Linked DNA regions of Homo sapiens. The protein of the gene in region 1 interacts with the protein of each later gene in a pairwise test. Each region holds a gene or a part of one and is shown on either strand. Other genes may lie near its edges. The genes, in order: TRIM68, HUNK, UBE2U and LZTFL1.

The links.
Region 2: the proteins of TRIM68 (region 1) and HUNK interact in a two-hybrid assay, tested with the Homo sapiens proteins (one large-scale study listed by BioGRID and IntAct).
Region 3: the proteins of TRIM68 (region 1) and UBE2U interact in a two-hybrid assay, tested with the Homo sapiens proteins (one large-scale study listed by BioGRID and IntAct).
Region 4: the proteins of TRIM68 (region 1) and LZTFL1 interact in binary tests that used the Homo sapiens proteins (3 or more experiments, as listed by UniProt).

What each region holds. Positions count from the first base shown.
Region 1 is NC_000011.10:4,601,716-4,605,283, forward strand, and holds part of TRIM68 (E3 ubiquitin-protein ligase TRIM68), read right to left. Parts: coding exon 3,364-3,568; intron 1,626-3,363; coding exon 1,530-1,625; intron 698-1,529; coding exon 437-697; intron 1-436. UniProt on the Homo sapiens protein: Functions as a ubiquitin E3 ligase. Acts as a coactivator of androgen receptor (AR) depending on its ubiquitin ligase activity.
Region 2 is NC_000021.9:31,875,982-31,879,549, reverse strand, and holds part of HUNK (hormonally up-regulated neu tumor-associated kinase), read right to left. Parts: intron 1-3,568.
Region 3 is NC_000001.11:64,202,377-64,206,477, reverse strand, and holds the start of UBE2U (ubiquitin-conjugating enzyme E2 U), read right to left. Parts: upstream 2,856-4,101; 5' UTR 2,428-2,855; coding exon 2,362-2,427; intron 1,938-2,361; exon of another isoform or gene 1,695-1,937; intron 840-1,694; coding exon 758-839; intron 1-757. UniProt on the Homo sapiens protein: Catalyzes the covalent attachment of ubiquitin to other proteins.
Region 4 is NC_000003.12:45,828,565-45,832,132, forward strand, and holds part of LZTFL1 (leucine zipper transcription factor-like protein 1), read right to left. Parts: intron 2,575-3,568; coding exon 2,509-2,574; intron 2,427-2,508; coding exon 2,349-2,426; intron 52-2,348; coding exon 1-51. UniProt on the Homo sapiens protein: Regulates ciliary localization of the BBSome complex. Together with the BBSome complex, controls SMO ciliary trafficking and contributes to the sonic hedgehog (SHH) pathway regulation. May play a role in neurite outgrowth. May have tumor suppressor function.

The DNA.
Region 1 (3,568 bases):
GAGTAAGTGCTATTCCTCAGAGGGAACAGACATCGAACTGGCAGGGAGTTTCTCTAGGGGAAGGGAGACAGATACCAAGAATGGAGAGATGCCATGCAGAGGTAAGGAGAAGCCTATGGAAGGATGGAAGAGCAGGCTGAGCTTTGGCTGAACTGGCCAATTTCAGGCTCCATCTCAAGACTCTCGGGCTAGAGGAGAGGGCCTGGAATGACGCCAGAGCTGCCTGAGCACTGCCCCACCTATGATGCTACAACAGACCAGGTCATCCACCAGCCAGGGATAGGGAAACAGCAGGTATTAGCTGGGGAAACACAGGATCCATGACCAGCTGGCAGAGGGCTGGCAGTCCCTACTGAAGGGTAACTGATGCTCTCTCCTGGAGTCTCAGTCTATCTTCAGCTGTCACTCAGGGTTACCAGGAAAACCTACTACTCACCTGCAACATCCAGCGGACAGGCCTCTGCGACCTCTCTTTCAACTCTGCAATCATCCTCCACAGGACCTGGCTCTGCTGGATGAGCTCGCTATGGTTCAACTCCAGTTTCTGCATGGTCTCCGCTGCCTCCCGCTGTAGGCTGGCCAGAGCTGCTGCTACCTCTGCCCCCAGCTGCCGATGTGGTGGCTGCTTTTTCTCTAGTAATCGCTGGTATTTTTCAAACTCCCATACAATACTCTGTTTTCGGGTTTCCACCTGTATCTGTGGAGCCAAGATGGAAATCAGCACTGATACTTTCAGTCACCCAGTATCGAGCATACTGACATATGCATACACACATACTCTGCAATGGTACCAACCACGTGACAGGCTATGCAGGGGCAAAGATAAAGGATACTATTTTTCCTAGCTTCCTGTTCTCCCAGCTCCACCACATGCTTCTAGGTCTCTATTGTCACTCTTATTGACTCCAGTAGGGTCCAGGATATTATCTTAATACTACATGCTCTAGACTATTTTCCATTTTCAGAATAATGACAAGATGTGTTACATTTAAGTCTCTAAGGCAGTGTAACTTAACTACACTGTTAGGTGGTTCATTTTCATGTTGATATTATATCTGTTCAACATGCTGTTTTAGATTGGTTCAGTGTTACTTTCTGTTGATCAAAAGTTCTAGTAGTTTGATACTTACTGGCCTCAAATTTATTTCAGAGGTGATTTTACAATATTTTAATAACCAGACTCTTAGCAAATATTCTCTAACTTGGGAAAATGAAAGAGAAACTCTGCTTTACAAGCATGATATAAGCCATGCCACTGTGAGCTGACACACGTGAGCATGTGCTTTTCCTTTCTCATATAGGAGGATACAAGACCAGAGGTTATCCCTACATCCCCATGGAGAAACTGGAATTAAGAGGTGACGTGGCCTACCTAAGGCCTGGGACAGAGAAAGCAGGGATTAGAACCCTAGGCTCTGTGATTTCAAGCCTCACATTCTGCCTCACAGTGATGAGAATGCTACCCTAGGCCAGCTCCAGGACCACACAGGACGACTGACACAAACTCCTTTCCCCACGAGGCAACCTGCCTTCCAGGTGGCAGTTCGTTTCCTTTCACCAACTTCAAGCTTCCAGGCCTCTTCTTGCTCTTTCTTCAGATGTTCGAGGGCCTCATGAAGTTCCCACTGCAAGAGACAAAACCCTCATGAGGCCACCTCCGGCAGCCTAGGCTTCCTAGCACTGGGAGGCTATGGGAGAACCAGAGTCCTTCAGGCAACCGGCCACAGTGAAGGCTGTGGGGAAAGGGAATGCCACAGAGGAAGCAGACTCTGCCCAGATGACATCCGAGGTAGCTCTCTGGGCTGAGAATCATTTCAACTCCCACAGTCTCTAAATGTCTGTAAACTGGAAGAAAAGGTCCATTTACAACCTCTCCACAAAAGTACCTTGGACTTTCCTTTCCATGCCAATTTTTATCCTTATCTTATTTATTTTTATCTTACTGTCTGCCAGAACCTTGTTACTCCAAATGTGGTTCAAGTGGATCAGCAGCATCCACATCACCTAGGAGCTTGTTAGAAATGCAGAATCTTGGCCTTACTTTAGACCTACCAAATGAGAATCTCAATTTTAGATGGATCTCCCAGGTGGTTCATATGCTTATTAAGGGTAAGAAGCACTTTCCTAGAATAGTAATGCAAGGGATTTCTACTGAAAAGCATAAACTGTGCAGAAACACCATTTAATTCTGCTATTTTAACAAAATAGCAACTATTTTGTTAAAATATATCAAGTGTCAGGTATATTTTCAGCTCTAAATATGCATGTGATACTTACAATCCTCTGAGGCTGGTATTAACCTTATTTTATAGACAAGAAAACTGAGGCTTAGAGGGTGACCTACCCAAAGTCATTCAGGTAATAAATGGTTGGGCTGGGATTTCATCCAGCCCTTTACCCCTATGTTATACTAGCTCCCTTTTCTAATAGTCTCAAAAACAGAATGAGTTAGTAAATACTTTTCATATTTTAGAAATCCCTCCCATATAGGAAAAAAGCTAATTCAGGGGATTTGTCTTACACTCTCACCTTCCTATTTCAACTCCAAAAAAGAGAGTTGAGACCAATGCTGGATCACTGGATCACAGAATCACTGAGATAATGGTTCCGATAAAGATGTCATTATGGGCATCTGATGAAAGAGTAAAGAGAAGCCCAGAAGCTGGAAGTTGATGAGGTTAGCTACAAAAAAGGAGTCCCAGGTTTGTCAGAGATGACTTGTCAAACAAACAAACTTGGGAGAGGAGAAAGTGCAAGAAGACTTGAGTCACAGCCTCTGATCTTCCTTTCACTAACTGGACCTGAAGTCAGAAAGGACCTGAGAAGACTATATCAGATGACCTCTCTCAATCTTGTGACTCACCCATAGTTCTTTCCACCTCTAAAATAAATTGCCATGTTTTCAACTTTCTAAGCCTCACTTTTGTCTATAAAATGAAGGAGGGAAGTGATCCATTCAATGCCAAATGACTACTTGCAGCACTGCTAGGAGGAGTTTGCAGGTCAGGTGTAGCCTTGACCATCTATATAAGAGCCTCATGCCTAAACTCATCCAAGGCATCCAGAATCTCAGTTAAAACCCAAACTGTTTTCCTTCACATTCTCATTACTGAAATCAGCCTTGGGTTAGGAATTGAGCCCTGTTAGGATGTAGGTGTAGAGGAAGTGGGAGAGCAGGAAATCAAGGAAGGTCATGAATACAAGGAAAGGTATAGCTCTCTGTATCAGATTCCAGGGATCTCTGGGTGTCAGGAACCAAAGGAGTTAGCTCTCAGTCTGTGGTGCTGGTGGTCAAGCCCTTGATCTAGAAACAGCCAACTTGGGGCCGGGGTTAGACTGGAGTGGCCAGCTTCCATCTCTCACCTTGTACTCCCAGGCAACATCCTCCATTGGCACAACACTGTGGGCCTCATGCTCTGGGGACTGGCTGCAGGCCTCACACATTATCAAGACATCCTCTTTGCAGAACATCTTCAGCTTTTCCCCATGGCGCTCACACAGGTCACCCTTCAGCCCCATTCCTGGATGTAGCCTTAGCAGACGGACTTTTTCTACAACATTGGCCAGC
Region 2 (3,568 bases), on another chromosome or scaffold:
ACCGTTTCTGCACTGTTGCGCTGACTCAAAGCACCCTTTGAAGTCCGTGGGACCTGTATCAATGAACACTAGGAACCAGGCCCTACGTGCCAATTTCCATCATTCACAAGTACTTCAAAAAGATGAGGCAGGGCAGGAAGTTCAAAAGAATCCGCCTGCAACTGCAGAATGCAATCCTCGAAATTACAGGCACTGCCTTGTCACACAGGGCTCACCAAGCAGGTGCTTTGCAAATGCCTCCTTCTTGCCAAGAAGTCCCTGCCAAGGATTAATAGGAATTTCCAGTTCTCTAAGCATTTCTTGTTCCTCAGAGCGATTACCCCTAAACTTCTAGCACTTCAAAAATACAGGATTTAGCACCTGTTTGTTTCAGAAATACTTGCTAAAAACAGATCTGCCAAAAGGCCACCTCTAAAATTAGTCATATTTCTTGCTCTGCAAAACATAGTAAATCGTATTTTTAGTAACTCCTTCACTCCAGGTATCTGGCACTGTCATGCTCTAAGCATGATTACTGGCAACTTAGTAAGCAGGCAACCCTTACTCTTAGCCTAAAAATAGTTCTGATGGAAGTGACAAGCCGGCTTATTATTCTTTAACCAAGGGTTAGAACAAGATATTTCAACATCTTAACCAATCATTTTATGTACTCAACTTTGTATCTCAGTGAGACTCAATCACAAAAAAGGTAACAGTGGCATGGACTGTCTGTTCTTGTTCTGTAGTTTGCCTGCCTACAACACTGGCTCAATACCTGAGATACACCTACTCTTTTCTCGATTCAGCTTTTCCAACTATATTTTTTCAACTTTTATCAATTTTTTACAAAACACAATAACCTGTCATGTGCCAGAGACCATGCCTCTTGTAGGTATCACGAACCATCACCAGGGTTCAAGCAATTCTCATGTGTCAGCCACCCAAGTAGCTGGGACTACAGGTGTGCACCACCACACCCAGCTAATTTTTGTGTTTTTAGTAGAGATGGGGTTTCTCCATGTTGGCCAGGCTGGTCTCAAACTCCTGACCTCAAATGATCCACCCACTTCGGCCTCCCAAAGTGCTGGGATTACAGGCATGAGCCACCGCGTCCAGCCACTAAACCAAACTTCTAAGGAATTATCCAAATATATTGCTGATGATAAAGGACCATTGTTTTACTGATTCCTTACAAACATTATTTATAATGTCTGTATTAGAAACATTATACGTGGTTTCTAAGTTGCTTCATTTAAAGTTTAACGTTTATGGAAATTTAAAATCTTAAACTCTTTTTTTTTTTTTTTTTTTTGAGATGGAGTCTCATTCTGTCACCCAGGCTGGAGTGCAGTGGCACAATCTAGGCTCACTGCAACCTCCACCTCCCACATTCAAGCGATTCTCCTGCTGCAGCCTCCAAAGTAGCTGGGATTACAGGTATGCACCACCACACCTGGCTAATTTTTGCATTTTTATTAGAGACAGGGTTTCACCATGTTGGCCAGGCTGATCTAGAACTCCTGACCTCAAGTGATCCACCCACCTTGGCCTCCCAAAGTGCTGGGATTACAGGCATGAGCCACCACGTCTGTCCTGTTTCTGGACCTCACTTCAATTTTCTGTAAGTCACTTTCCTTATTCTGTCGACAGATGATATTATCTGATCATGCAGCAGCCCCCAAGTCACTCTGTCTGGTTGGGGGCCAGGGCGGGGGGCACTTGTTATGTGCCAGAGACCACGCCTCTCATAGGTATCACAAATCAATACCAGGCTCTGCAAGCACAACCACTCCAGGTGTTTCAAAGTCATTACCCCATACTGTTGCTCAACAGCTTTGCTCTTCGTCTCAAAGCCAGAGAGTGGTACTTTTCAGAATCTGGTTTTGTGATCATTTTCCCTGGTCTAATCATCAACTTTGGTCAAAGACACTCAGCCCTGACTGTGAAGGTACCTATTAAGAGTTTCACATGGCCAAGTGAACTATTTATTTTTAAAGCCAGATTAACAGAGATTGCATTAACTCAAAGGAGGACACAATTAGGTCTCAGCCGCAAGCCATCTTTCCTTTACAAGCAGTAAAAGAGCCATCTAGATTCAAATGGCTTCTAAACAAACAACTTCAGAGGAAAAGCAGGCAAAAGATTGTCCTACAGGCAGTGGTGGCAAAAGCAGCCTCTTGATGAGATCAAATTGAAACCTAAAAGGAAAGTTGGGAAAAACTGGCTCCCTTTGTCATCTGGACTCAGACAGTGATTCCCAGCAAACCATGAAGGATTTCACCCAAAGCTTTTTGGAAGTGTAACCAAGTCGAAACACAACACGCTACACACACACACACACCCCCATACCAAATGCCTTCAACTAGCAATGCCCTAGATTTTAGCACAAATCACCCAAAACTAATTCTCACAGTTTGAGAATGCAGCTATGAAGCAGGCCAAACTTGGGGTGCCCTCTCAACTTCTGTTTCCCTATGCCCTCTTTCAGCTTTTTCATGGACTGATTTCCCAAGACAAGCTGCCCTGAATCCTTTCGCTCCACGTGGGCTGGGAGTACTTCTCACTACAGTATTAATGACTTCATTCCCCTCCTAATGTGGAATGGATCCTTTATAAAAGGATGGGCCAGGTGCAGTGGCTCACATCTGTAATTGTAGCACTTTGGGAGGCCAAGGTGGGAGGATCACTTGAGGCCAGGAGTTGGAGACCAGCCTGAGCAACACAGTGAGACCCCTGTCTTTATAAAAAATTTAAAAAATAAATAGATAGGACAGGAGAAAAGTGAAATTCTAAATCCAAAATGTACACACCCCAAGAAAAGAGGAATTAATGAGGGAGAGAGGCCTCCCTGGGTCACCCACAGTGGGGGACACTGGAGGCTTAATGACCTCCTTTTCCTCAGCTCTGCTCACTGGAGGAAACTTTCCCCAGGCCAAAATCATCTTAGTAGCTCACCTTTTAAAAGAACTTCAGGTTGTAAATAGCCTGAGGCTGTGGTCATCTTTGTTTTGGCCTTAGTTAGGCAATACCCAAAACTAGAGTGGGAATGAGGACTCATTTTAATTTAGCAATCTTTCTCAGAGTCAAGCATACACACACAACCATTTTAATCCCCACAATCTGCTAAAACCCAAATCTATTAGTTAAGCATTAAAGGTGCTGGATTTGGGAGATAAATGTTATGAATGACACCATTGTTTCTTTAAAGCCAGCAATTGAGTGAACTAAAATCCAGATTTCTCCCAATGCCCGCAATCCCTGGAGCACTGATTCTCCCCGCTGGGGAGGAGCATCCCGGGAAAACCAAGTTTTTCAACACAGACATCTCTCCCCTGCCTCCTTCTCCACCCAAAGAACCACCATCCTTACCCGCAGTCCACCAATGGGTCCAGGGGAATAATTTTACATCCAATTAACATCTCCTGTCATTGCAACAATGAAGTGAGATTCATCATTTAAGAAACATAAGATGGGAGGGAAGGGGAGTGGGCACCTGGGGAAGCAGCGAGTCTCTTCATGTGAATCCTATTTGGGCAAGAATTCCCTGCATGTCGGGGTTCCCAGTGGGCCCAGCACAGAGCTCCAGAAC
Region 3 (4,101 bases), on another chromosome or scaffold:
TCCCAAAATCTGCTACACCCTTTCTTGTCTACAAGTCTTTGCTGTGCTGTTTACTCTGCCCGAATTTCCTTATCCTTCTTCTGAACCTGGCAGATTCTTCAGGACTCAACTCAAATGTGATCTCCTTGGGAAGACATTCCTGACTCCCTCAGGCATAATTAACTAATCCTCTTCCTCTTTAGCATTCTGTTCAAAATCCATAATAATGTATATTTTATTGTAATTATCAGCTGATGTGTTTGTCTCCCCTACCTCACTCAAGGAATCTATCTTATTAATCCATAATTGAAAGAAAACATGAGCATTAAAGTTTATAGTGGCTTAGTGTTCTTGAGATTTTTTGATTTATGAAAATTTGGGGGAAAATCATAAAGGAAAAAATGAGAAGTAACTGTGGGGTTTTGAAGCCAATAGGAATTTTGATAGTTATTCCCTGATCTCACGGAAGGCAGACGATATTCTCTCAATTGATATGCTCTATTGTGTCTGCTTCTTAAAAATGTAATAAAATTAAGATTTGGCATAAAGAAAAATACCCCAAATTTCCATCTATGTTGACACATGGCAAAAAAGTCATAAATAAAAAAAATGGGAATATTTTTAGAATTTTAGACAACTGGTATAATGCAAACTTATGCATATGAAGAAGAATTTCAGGAAATTTATATAATGCGACCTTATCCTACATAAAAAGAGGATGGGCTAATAATGGTATAAAGACTTTTTTAAAAAATAGATTGGTTTTGAAAATACAAACCCTGCCAAACTGAATTCTGTAGACCTTCAATTTCAACTTCCCATTCCATCATATCTTCACTTACAGGCTTAGCAGTGATACCCTTGAAGTTAAAAACAAAATTAAATCAGAAAAAACTTATTAAGTATTTATTGAAGTTTTGAAAATCATATACCAGGTCACACTGAATTCTAAAAACTCTAAATTTTCTTTCCTTGATAAGTTTATTTATTTGCTGCTCTGGGGAAGTGTTACATGTCTTATTTCACGGAAGTTAATATAGATCCCAGAAAACATATGCAATAGTAATTAAAAATAAATCATAAGTGTGGAAATCACAAGTGGGACTAGAGAGTCAAGATTAGAATGTGTGGCTTATATACTGTTTGTGTAAATCAATAACCAATTTAATATTCAAATTTTAAAAGAAAGAAATAGTTGGAAAGTGCATGTTTCTTCAAAACATTTTAGAGCTATATGAATGCTATATGAAAGGCATGAAGTGGGAACATTTTCATTAAGAAAAAATCCAAAATTACACTTGTATATAAAAGCAAAGTTTTCCTATACTTGAGGAGTTGTTCCAATGGAGGGACAAGAATGTATTTCATAGAAAACCTTATGAATTACGTTAAGTAACACACTTACAAACACATAAAAACACTTCTGAGCATCCACATAGTTATTAAGTATGTTAGTGCTTGTCTGGGTGAGCCCTGTCTCTCTATTATCTATATTTACATATTCCTTCATTGGATTCTCTTTCAACAGAGAACTACAGAGCTCAGGATGAGCAGAAACAATATCAAATGTTAGGTCCATGCCCCAGGAATGTTCGCTGTTGGACTCCATAATTGTTCCTAACATCTCCAGTGAATGCAGTACTTTTATAGCAGAGGTAAAAAATGAACAATGCCACTGAACTACACCTGAAGCAACTGTGGGAAGCACTCTATACCTTTCATGGACAGCTTTCTTTCTGTTCTTTCTCTTAAGCACTCCCTCTTCGCCCCCTCTTCCATTTTTCATTTTCCGTAAATCAGCCTGTGGCAGCCATGGACATTGATAACCTCATTGGTGGCGTTTAAGCCCAAGGACATTGCTTCTTTTGTGTTAAAACTATAAAGGGAAGGCATTTATGTGTCATGCTGGTAAAAGTACACTAGACAGTAAGCAGTGGAACACAGGAATTAAGAACTAGGGCTTTGAAGTCCAAAAACCCTGTAATGGAATCATGGGGCAAAATCTTTACAGAATATTTCTGAGGCTTAGGTTTTTGGTAAGTAAAATGAAATACTACTTATTGTATAGTATTATAATTAATGAGCATAAGCCTGCACCTACTAGTCACTAACTACATGACAGACCCTGATATTCAGTGCCTAGATCCACATAAATTACTCTGCATAATATGTTCAATATTGTTAAGCATTATTATTTTGAAGTAATAATAATTGTTATTAATATGAAACACATTACTTCAGTGAAATGGATTTATTAAATAACAATACTGTAGTGGCAAATCAGGTTTAACTAAATTACTACTTATAGAATAAAATGGGTTAAACTGCCTCTTAAAAATTATTGCACAATGAAACACATCTCTCCACGTGCCCAGTACTTACCTTATAATTGTTCTCCTTGAGATCACAGAAGTCTCTGTGCAGCAAGAGGTAAGCTCTGCCGTGCATGATAGGCAGCGGAGGGTCTGACACTTGTCCCCAAATGCCTCAGGTTTACTCTGAGGCAGATGTTTGAAGTTATGGGTCACTTTCCCACACTTAGTAAACTGATATAAGTTACTTGCTTTCTAGAACCTCAGAACGGTACCAAGATAAGCGGCTTCTAAAGTTGGGATATAACAATGACTTTTTCTCCTGACTCCTCTAAACGAGAACTTCCCGAAGGAAGACTTGGGCACTTCCTCATCTGCGGCGTTTCACTGCAGTGCCGGCTCACAGCCCAGTCTCAAGACAAACTTGGATGAGTAACGGAGACAAGCCCATGTCGTCGGCGCGTGAGTGGGAGTGAGAGGTGTACGCCTATCAGGGTCCTAGCAGGTTGTCTTCGCTTCACAGGTGCAACCCCGCAGCCACGCACCGGAGGAAGCAAATCGGTTGCCAACCAACAGGCCCCCGTGGGGCCGCCGAGAGACGGAGGCAGGGGGTTGGCCGCTCTCACCCAATCAGCGACAGGGGGCAGGCCTCTTGCTATCTCCACAGCCAATCCTACAACAGTTTCCCCTTTGAAAGGCCAATGAGATTCGTGGTCAAGGCAACACCACGCCTTCTCAGGCCACGAACATGGACTGTACAAAACTAGTGTAGAGGATGGGGTGAGGTCCCAGGACCCAGCATGTAAGTCACAGAAGCCGTCCCACGAAGTCTTTCTTCGAAATTATCCTTCCTTTTTCTTTGACTATCAAAAGATATAGTAAGTGACTGGTAGGTACAGGTCTGCATAACAATATCTTAACTTACATGGCGAGTTACCATTCACAGTAGTGTGCATGCTATTATGTCATCAAACCCTACAATCACCCTGGGAAAGTGCTCCAGGAACAGGGAACTGCTTAAAATTTCTCTGATTCCCATCTCTTCCCGCACAGTTTCGCACCTGCTGTTCCTTCTACCTAGGAGTTTACCACATTCCTTCCACCCCTTCAGCCCTCATTTCCCCTTCACTCACTCATCCTTCAGATTTTAACGACTCTTTAAGGGATCCTTTCTTTTGTGATCCCACAGGACCTTCTATTTGCCTCCTAGTTAACATTTGCCATACGGCATCACAATTGTCTATTGTCTTCACCAGAGTGGGAACTACTGAAAGACACGGTTCCATTGCCAGCGCCAACTACAAAGCCTGGCATCTTTGTTCAGAATACTTTCTTTTTTTACTTTTTACTTACTAATTTTATAGAATCCGGATGTTCATTTAGTCCATTCATTTTACAAATATTTATTAAATACTTTTTTTTTACTTGAAAGATTCAAATGAAGTAAATGTCTTTATGGCTCCAATATACAATAAACAAGTATGCAAAACAAAAATCATGATTTCAGATGGTGATAAACGTTATGTGGACAATAATAAAACAGTACCATGATAGAGATTGGGGTAGGTCATTAAGGATTAGAAATGGTAGTCAGGAAATGCCTCTGTAAGGAATGGGGTTTTGAACTCATACATGAAAGATGAGAAGGAGCCTGCTACATGAAATATTGAGGGCAGAGAGTTCTAGGAAGAGGAAAACAAGATATTTTTGAGTCAGGAAAGAGCTTGTCTTGAAAAGGGAACAAGGGAAGGTCAGGGAGGTTGTGGAGGAGCCTGGGAGGGGTGTGATAAAGATGGGCACTATACAGTAG
Region 4 (3,568 bases), on another chromosome or scaffold:
GGCAGCGACAGTGTTTTCTAAGTTACTTAAGTCTTGGGCCTTTATAAAATCCTATGAAAAATAAATGCATGCATGTAATTTCATGTTGATATTCTAAAAATAACTGTTTTAGAATGGTGATTCAACATCATAGGAGATGAAAAAAATGATGTATGTTTTGTGTGCATGCCAGCCTCCCTTGCCAGCCTAGGTAAGTGCCAGCCCCTTCAGAGTCACCAGCAGGCCAGTCCATTGTCAGCCCTGGGTACGTGGTGTCTTGCACACAGCCGACACTCAGTAGCCACTGAATTCCAAATACATAAAATATGATTTGTGAACTGCTGGTATTTCCATCCAAGATGTGTGTACCAGGGTTGAGATGGCAAACAGGTTTCATTTTGAAAAGCCAAATTTAAAAAAATCCTCAAAGAAGTTTGAATTCTTCAAAATGATAGAAAAAATGATAAAAGTAATATAATTTATACCAAAAACTTAATAGACATATGTTTTAGTCATTATTTACAAGGAAATAATATGAGAGCACAATTACTGATTACATGGTTTTCTAAATTTTTAAGATTTTAAGTTTTTTATATTCATGAGATATGTGTAATTTTTGCATACTTTGACAACTATAGCATAAGACAGGCACTGGATCTTCTCTCTTCCTGGATCTTGTTTTTGACTGGATAAGATTCATGACAGAAAAAACATTTGTACTGATAAGACAGTAAAATGGTCTACAATTGGTTAATATGTAGATGAAGAAATACTTAGTACTTTCAAGTGGCTCTCACGCCTGTAATTCCAATACTTTAGGAGGCCAAGGGAGGAGGACTACTTGAGCCCAGGAAATTGAGACCAGCCTGGGCAACAGAGCAAGACCCCGTCTCTACAAAAAATATAAAAAATTAGCCAGGCATGGTGGCACATGCCTGTGGTCCCAACCACTTGGGAGGCTGAGGTGGGAGGATCGCTTGAGCCGGTGAGGTCAAGGTTGTAGTGAGCCATGGTTGCACCACCGCACTCCAGCATGGGAAACAGAATAAGGCCCTGTCTCAAAAGAAAAAAAAAAAAAAAAAAAAAAAGTACTTTCAACAGAAGAAAAAAAAAATCTTTCCTCATTTTTGAAATCTGGTCTTTGAAAAAAAGATTTTCATTGCAACTAATAAAAGCACGTATTCACTGGTTGTTCTTGTGTCCAAAATCTTAAAGTAAAATTGGAGCAAAGCCCCAAAAAGCTTTTAAACAAATTCATCAGCCACATGTGTTTGCAATTGTTTGACTTAGGAGAAATTATAAAGCGGTTCTGGAACATTCGTGTTTTTATAAATCTATTGTCATTGGCATATAATGGTTGAAAATCATTAGCTATATAAGAAGTATCCTCCTATTTTAAAAATATCTACAGATAAAATGGTTCAACGTCTGAGATTTGCTTCAAAAAAACATGGCTGGTGGGAAGAAGAAAGTAGAGGTACAAATGAAACCAGACTGGCCATGCATTGGTAACTGCTAAATAGAGTGAAGAGTGCATGGGGGTTCATTATACTATTCTCTCTACTTTTGTGTATGTTTGAAATTTTTCATAGAGAAAAGATTAGCAAAAGCCCAGTGAAGCAGATTTTGGGTTTGTTTACCAGACATTTGCAATGAGAGTATGACCACTAGAAAAGCCAATGCTGTACTGAATATCTACCCAAATGGTCCTGCTCACAGGAAATCATACTGCAGCATGCACACTCAACAGAAAGTCCACAGGAGACAGACTGTACATACAATGACTTCCCGCAGGCGGAGTGACATTCAGTCATTACATTCAGACAAGCATGAAGAACTACAACACTGGATTTCATTGTACTCTATGGTGCCGGCGGGTACAGACGCATCTGCAGATTCATAATCATTTTGTCACACTCATCAAAGGCAAACTTAAGTAATGTTCAGTATAATAAAACCCAAATATAAACCAATTAAAAACTTTTCTTTTCATTTTCTTTCCCCTCCACTGTAATTGGATGTCAAAGTGAGAGGGGAAACTTAAAAAAAAAAAGTGAGAATATCTTGCATACCAGGAAGATTGTAGAAAAACTTAAAAAATAAATGTGAGAATATCTTGCATGCCAGGGAAACTGCAGGTGTGTGAGCTATGTACTGTCCCCTCTGCCCTAGAGGATGGACAGAGGGAAGGTCACTGGTTCTCACCAGGCCTTTTGGGGGCAAGAATGTCCCAACACATGACAATAGAGGCATTTGTCTCAGGGAGTAGCAGGGGTGGGGTACAGTGAGCAGTAACTAAGACTTAATTTTAAGTTTATAACTTCATTCTACTTAGAAAATGTGAGAAAGGTAGCTAAAACTTGTTTCACCTTTTGATTTCCTTGATCAAGCTGTAAATCTTGCAGTGCTTTTTCTAGTTTTGACTTTTCATCCAGTGCATTTGTAGCCTATAGTGAAGTTTAAACAAAACACTTTCAGTATTTAATCTGTAGGCAGTTCAATAATTGTGTCAAAACATTTCTCAGTTACCTGTATTTCAATGGTCTTCAACCTTGACTTCAATTTCTCATTCTCTTCTTGAAGTCTTAAAATTTCCTTTGTGAGTAAATTCAAATTTTATTATATTAACCAAAATATTTTAATATTTGAAATTATTACTTGTTTCACTTAAAAATCTAATTTTTAAATTTAAATTACATAATAGCTCAAAAATGTACTACTGATATTTTGGTAATATCCCAATTTCATCCAGCCTATCAGCCTCAGTATCTGTGAGTCAGCTTTGGATCTAAGACATCTAGTTTCTTTTCTTTCAGTTTCTCAGACACATCTTCCCTCTTTCAGTCCTCTGTTTTCTGTTTTCAAATTTTTTTCCAAAGACCCGCTTCCCTGCCAACTTTCTCCTAGCTGGTCCTGCAAATCCTGGGTCTATTCTCAGCCTACACTGCACACTGTTGCCCCTTATCCTGAGAACTCCTTCACTTCAGTACCATGCTCAAGCCCACAGATGCTTCTGACTGAGGTGAGGCCAAACACTTTTGTTCTTATACAGCTCAAACATTTGAATCATCTGTGTTATTTTTCAGTAGACTCAAATAAACACATCAGCCCAGTCAGAGGGCACTGCACTCTGTTTCAAGTCATGCCGCCTCCTGTCTGACCACTGCCTGTTCTGTTCTCCTGCCCAACACACTCACTTCTCTTTCCTCTACAATTTAACTGGTCTTCATCCTTCAAGGCCCAGCTTAGGTACCCCTTTACCCAAGAGCCTGTTCTCACCTACTGTTATCCACACACAACTGAGTCTTCTCTGCTACCCAGTATGACACCTGTAGCACACAGGAGAATATTCTCTGGTCTCTATTTCTAGAACATCAGTTCTACTTTCCCAATAAAACTATTACATTTTTGGCCGGGCACGGTGGCTCACACCTGTAATCCCAGCACTTTGGAAGGCCGAGGCGGGCGTATCACAAGATCAGGAGATCAAGACCAACCTGGCTAACATGGTGAAACCCCATCTCTACTAAAAATACAAAAAATTAGCCGGGCGTGGTGGCAGGCGCTACTCGGAGGCTGAGGCAGGAGA